2 separate regions of the Homo sapiens genome follow, and region 2 is linked to region 1. The links come from fine-mapping of genetic effects on gene expression. Tissue or cell type: blood mononuclear cells. Region 1 holds a variant in brackets; the other region holds the start of a gene. All regions are shown on one strand. Distances are between the middles of the regions.

Evidence for each region. PIP is the estimated chance that this variant, and not a neighbour inherited with it, causes the effect.
Region 2: PTPRH starts here. The variant in region 1 is the best candidate, but not a certain one, in a credible set for the expression of PTPRH in blood mononuclear cells (TOPMed, PIP 0.72).

What each region holds. Positions count from the first base shown.
Region 1 is chr19:55,157,322-55,159,821 of GRCh38, reverse strand. It overlaps TNNI3 (troponin I3, cardiac type), which reads left to right and starts at 2,090. Exons shown (of 8, transcript NM_000363.5): 1 at 2,090-2,243. The coding sequence starts at 2,233. DNAAF3 (dynein axonemal assembly factor 3) reads left to right here. Exons shown (of 12, transcript NM_001256715.2): 11 at 215-289; 12 at 373-1,157. The coding sequence ends at 760. DNAAF3-AS1 (DNAAF3 antisense RNA 1) reads right to left here and starts at 513. Exons shown (of 4, transcript XR_007067345.1): 1 at 377-513. RefSeq lists an enhancer at 2,312-2,500. The variant G/C (reference allele first, on the strand shown) is at 1,318.
Region 2 is chr19:55,208,080-55,211,079 of GRCh38, reverse strand. It overlaps PTPRH (protein tyrosine phosphatase receptor type H), which reads left to right and starts at 1,579. Exons shown (of 20, transcript NM_002842.5): 1 at 1,579-1,697. The coding sequence starts at 1,647.

The DNA.
Region 1 (2,500 bases):
AGGCCCCCAGCCCCTCCTTGCTTAGACCCAGGGGTCCAGGCCCCCAGCCCCTCCTCCCTCAGACCCAGGAGTCCAGACCTCCTGCTCCCTTCTTTCCCCAGGACCCAGACTCCAGTTTTGCCACCCCTCCTCCCTCATTGTCTGGGATCCCAGAGCCCCATCCTCCCTCCGGATTTGGAGCTGAATCTCAGCCTGTCCTCCGTCCTCTCTGCAGTATGGTCCATCTTCTCATCCCTGAGCTTGGGGCCTGTGTGGCACCCGGAGGGAACTTGATTGTGGAATTAGCCCGGTGAGTCAGTGGGGTGGAGGGTGGGGAACATCCTGGCTGGGGATCAAAATCTGGGTCCCTGACAGGGCGCTTCCCATCTGCAGGTACCTGGTGGACGTGCGGCAGGAGCAGCTGCAGGGATTCAACACCCGGGTCAGGGAGCTAGCTCAGGCAGCTGGATTTGCTCCACAGACCGGGGCCAGGCCTTCAGAGACCTTCGCACGTTTCTGCAAGTCCCAGGAATCAGCTCTGGGCAACACTGTCCCAGCTGTGGAACCCGGAACTCCGCCCCTTGACATCCTGGCCCAGCCTCTTGAAGCCAGCAACCCAGCCCTTGAGGGCCTGACCCAGCCTCTGCAGGGTGGGACCCCACACTGTGAGCCCTGCCAGCTGCCCTCTGAGTCTCCAGGTTCACTCTCAGAGGTTCTGGCTCAGCCTCAGGGGGCCTTGGCTCCGCCCAACTGTGAGTCAGACTCCAAAACTGGAGTCTGACCCAACCCCTAGACACCCCTTATCTCCAACTTCCAAAGTCAGGTTGTAGGATGAGAACCCGCTGATACCATTCTAAGTCCGCTGCTAGAGTCCTCAATTTTATTCTAATCATTCCCACTCAGTACCCGCCACCCCCACCCCGGGAGTGTTGGTAGACTTTCAAATTCCATTTCTGAGATTCTATGGTCTATTCCTAGAATTCTAGATTGTTCTCTCAGAATTCCAAATTCCACTTCTGAGGCTCTAAGCCCAGCCTAGGATCTGACACTGAGTCTCAGGCCCTTGACTTTGGCCCCCTTGTTCCCAGGCACCCTGTGGCTGACTAGGGGCTGGGGTGTCTCCTCACCAGGGCCTGGTCAGCACCCAGATGGTTCAAGTAAAGCAAGTTGTGTCCACCCTTCTGTGTGTCCAAGCGTCTTTCCTGTCCTATGTCCGTCTCCAGGGCTGGGAGAGAAAGGCCCAGGAGTGCTGGACAGAGGAAGCCAGAAACCAGATTCCTGGGTTTCCAAGTGGACGAGGGATGGATTTCCCAGTGCTATTGACTGAGAGCTAGCCCC[G/C]AGCACAGCTGCATCCTCAAATTAATCAACAACATTTATTGAGTGGCCTGGACTCCTGGGTCTGAGGGGAGAGGGATTGGGGTCCTGGACTCCTCGGTCTGAGGGGAGAGGGATTGGGGTCCTGGACTCCTGGTCTGAGGGAGGAGGAGCTGAGGGTGCAGACTCTTGAGTCTGAGAGAGGAAGTGTGCTGGGGGCCTGCCTGGACTCCCTTGTCTGAGGGAGGGGCTGGGGGCCTGGACCCCTGGGTCTGAGGGAGGAGGGGCTGGGGGCCTGGACTCCTGGGTCTGAGGGAGGAGGGGCTGGGGCCTGGACTCTTGGGTCTGAGGGAGGAGGGGCTGGGGCCTGGACTCTTGGGTCTGAGGGAAGAGGAGCTGGGGGCCTGGACTCTTGGGTCTGAGGGAGGAGGGGCTGGGGGCCTGGACTCTTGGGTCTGAGGGAAGAGGAGCTGGGGGCCCAGACACTTGAGTCTGAGGGAAAAGGGGGCTGGGGGCCTGGACTCCTTGTGTGAGGGAGTGGCCAGGGTCTCCCAGGGTCCTGGGACTGAGGGAGGAGGAGGTTGGGAGGTCGGGCATTCTCTGGGTCTGAGGGAGGAGGGGTCTAGGACTCCAGGATCAGAGGGAGGAGGGTCCGGATTCCTGTGCCCGGAGGTGGCTGGTGATCCAGCTGGAGCAGGGCCCACCCCGCCCCTCACGCGCCCCCGTTATCTGGCATAGTGGGCAGGGGGAGGAGGAGGTGACAGTATATTTAGTCTGTGTCCTCGCCCTTTATCTCAGTGTCCTCGGGGAGTCTCAAGCAGCCCGGAGGAGACTGACGGTCCCTGGGACCCTGAAGGTCACCCGGGCGGCCCCCTCACTGACCCTCCAAACGCCCCTGTCCTCGCCCTGCCTCCTGCCATTCCCGGCCTGAGTCTCAGCATGGCGGATGGGTGAGTGATGCCCCAAGGCAGTGGGAGTTGGGGGCGACCTCCCGGGTTCCCAAGAGGGGTCGCAGCTGAGAGGCTGGACCCTTGGCCTGCGAGGTAGGCGTAGGGACTCTTGGGTGAAGAGAGGAAGTGGGTTTGCGAGTCAGACTCCTGGAACCCAAGGAAGGGGAAGCGCGGTCCCCCGACCTCTTGTTCAGAGGGGACTCCAGGGGTCCCTTAGGAGACAGGACACAGCCCACCACTAACCCCCCTCCTTGGTT
Region 2 (3,000 bases), 51 kb before region 1:
TTTTTTTTTTTTTTTTTTTTCTTTGAGAAAGAGTCTTGCTCTGTCACCCAGGCTGGAGTGCAGTGGCGCTATCTTGACTCACTGCAAGCTCCGCCTCCCAGGTTCACACCATTCTCCTGCCTCAGCCTCCTGAGTAGCTGGGAGTACAGGTGCCTGCCACCACAGCCAGCTAATTTTTGCATTTTAGTAGAGATGGGGTTTCACCATCTTAGCCAGGCTGGTCTCGAACTCCTGATCTCAGGTGATCTGCCCACCTCGGCCTCCCAAATTGCTGGGATTACAGGTGTGAGCCACCGCGCCTGGCCATTGTTTTGCTTTCTGAGACAGGGGCTCACTCTGTCACCCAGGCTGGAGTGCAGTGGCACAATCGCAGCTTACTGCAGCCTTGACTTCCCAGTCTCAGGTGATCCTCCCACCTCAGCCTCCCGGTAGCTGGGACTACAGGCGTGCACTACCATGCCTGGGTAATTTTTTCTCTCTTTTTGTTTTTCTTTGTAAAGATGGGGTTTTGTATATTGCCCGGGCTGGTCTCAAACTCCTGGGCTCAAGTGATCCTCCCACTTCAGCCTCCTGAGTAGCTGGGCACACACCAATATGCCCGGCTGGGGTTTCTATTCTTCATTTCCGCACTATATGTGAGATGAAGGCAGTCCACGTGTGCACATAGTAAGTCAACAAAAACACCTTGAAAAGCCCTGGGTGTCAGGCCCCTTCTGAGCACAGGTGGCCTAGGGATGAACTAAAAATAAACATGACTAATATTTATCAACTGTTTAAAATGGGCCAGGCATTGTTCCAAGACTTTCCACGTAGTAACTCATCTATTTCTCTTAGCATATTTACAAGGGTGCCCATTCTTTAGAGATGAGGAATCTGAGTCACTGTGGATTTAAGTCATTTGCTCAGGGTCACAGATGGATATGCAAATTAGAGAGTCTGGGGTGTGGAAGACAGTGCACAGGGTCCTGACCAGGCTAGAAAGGCCCCAGGCCCGGCATGGGTCATTTCCAAGCTGAATCCTAATGGAGCAGTGGGTAGGAGACTGTTAGGGGGAAAGTAGGCAGGTGCATCTGGTGGGGGAGACAGTCTAGGCAAAGGCCAAGAGGCAGGAGCCCGCTGGGCTCATTTTGTGAGAGCTGCAGGGGCTTGTGGGAGACGGAGAGGGGAAAGGCGTCAGAGGCTGAATGGAAGAGCGTGCTCCAGGGACGAGGGGCATGAGGTCTAAGCCCCAGGCTGCTCTTGATGTGTGATCACCCACCAGGGAGGCGAGGGAGTCAGCTGGCCTTTCTCTCAGCACCCCCTGCTCTCATCCTCTGCCCCACGTCCCGCATCCGTGCAGCAGTGGGGCGCGGCACCCGGTACCTGGGGTGCAGAGGGAGATTTCGGGGGACAAAGTGGAGTGGGCTGGGGGCTGGAGAAAGGATGGGAGGCATCTCCAGTGTCAGAGCTAGAGGCAGCGGTGAGGGAGGAAGGTGAGGGCCAGCGGGGCAGGGTTGGGAGCTGGGTTCCACTTCCTCCTCCTCCCCTTCCCGCCCTGGCCTCTGGCTTCACCAATGATCTGGTAAAGGGGAAATTCTTGAGTGTAAAGTCCAGCAGGTGGAAGGACTAGGCCTGGGACTCCTGGGTCCCCGGCAGTGTCTGGAGGCATGGCTGGGGCTGGCGGGGGCCTCGGGGTCTGGGGGAACCTGGTGCTGCTGGTAAGTGCTCCCCGCCCAGAGCGGGCTCCCAAGGCAGGGACTCCCAGGTCTGAGGGAGAAGGAGCTGGGTGCCTGCACCTCGATCTTGAGGAAGTAGGTGCTGAAGATCCCCTGGAGAAGGAAGAGGGCTTCAGGCTTGGCAGAGACTGTAGGAGAGTCTTACACCTGGGCTCTTAGATACTGTCGTGTCTGCTGCGGGGGACACCAGCTTCACCCGGGCCCTTAGACATTGTCGTGTCTGTTGTGGGGGACACCAGCTTCACCCGGGCCCTTAGACACTGTCGTGTCTGCTGCGGGGGACACTGGCTTCAGGCAACACACAGCTGTGCTCACGGACAGGAAGCAGCCCCTCCTCCCTCAAACCAAGAGTCCAGACCCCAGCCCCTCCTCCCTCAGACCCAGGAGTCCAGGCCCCCAGCCCCTCCTCCCTCAGACCCAGGAGTCCAGACCCCAGCCCCTCCTCCCTCAGACCCGGGAGTCCAGGCCCCCAGCCCTTCCTCCCTCAAACCAAGAGTCCAGGCCCCCAACCCCTCCTCCCTCAGACTCAGGAGTCCAGACCCCCAGCCCCTCTTCCCTCAGACTCAGGGGTCCAGACCCCCAGTCCCTCCTCCTTCAGGCCCAGGAGTCCAGACCCCCAGCCCCTCCTCCCTCAGACCCAGGAGTCCAGACCCCAGCCCCTCCTCCCTCAGACTCAGGAGTCCAGGCCCCCAGCCCCTCCTCCCTCAGACCCAGGAGTCCAGACCCCAGCCCCTCCTCCCTCAGACCCGGGAGTCCAGGCCCCCAGCCCTTCCTCCCTCAAACCAAGAGTCCAGGCCCCCAACCCCTCCTCCCTCAGACTCAGGAGTCCAGACCCCCAGCCCCTCTTCCCTCAGACTCAGGGGTCCAGACCCCCAGTCCCTCCTCCTTCAGGCCCAGGAGTCCAGACCCCCAGCCCCTCCTCCCTCAGACCCAGGAGTCCAGACCCCAGCCCCTCCTCCCTCAGACTCAGGAGTCCAGGCCCCCAACCTCTCCTCCCTCAAACCAGAGGTCGAGACCCCCAGCCCCTCCTCCCTCAGACCCAGGAGTCCAGACCCCCAGCCCCTCCTCCCTCAGACCCAGGAATCCAGACCCCCAGCCCCTCCTCCCTCAGACCCAGGAGTCCAGACCCCAGCCCCTCCTCCCTCAGACTCAGGAGTCCAGGCCCCCAACCTCTCCTCCCTCAAACCAGAGGTCGAGACCCCCAGCCCCTCCTCCCTCAGACCCAGGCCCCCAGGCCCCCAGGCCCTCCTCCCTCAGACCCAGGAGTCCAGACCCCAGCCCCTCC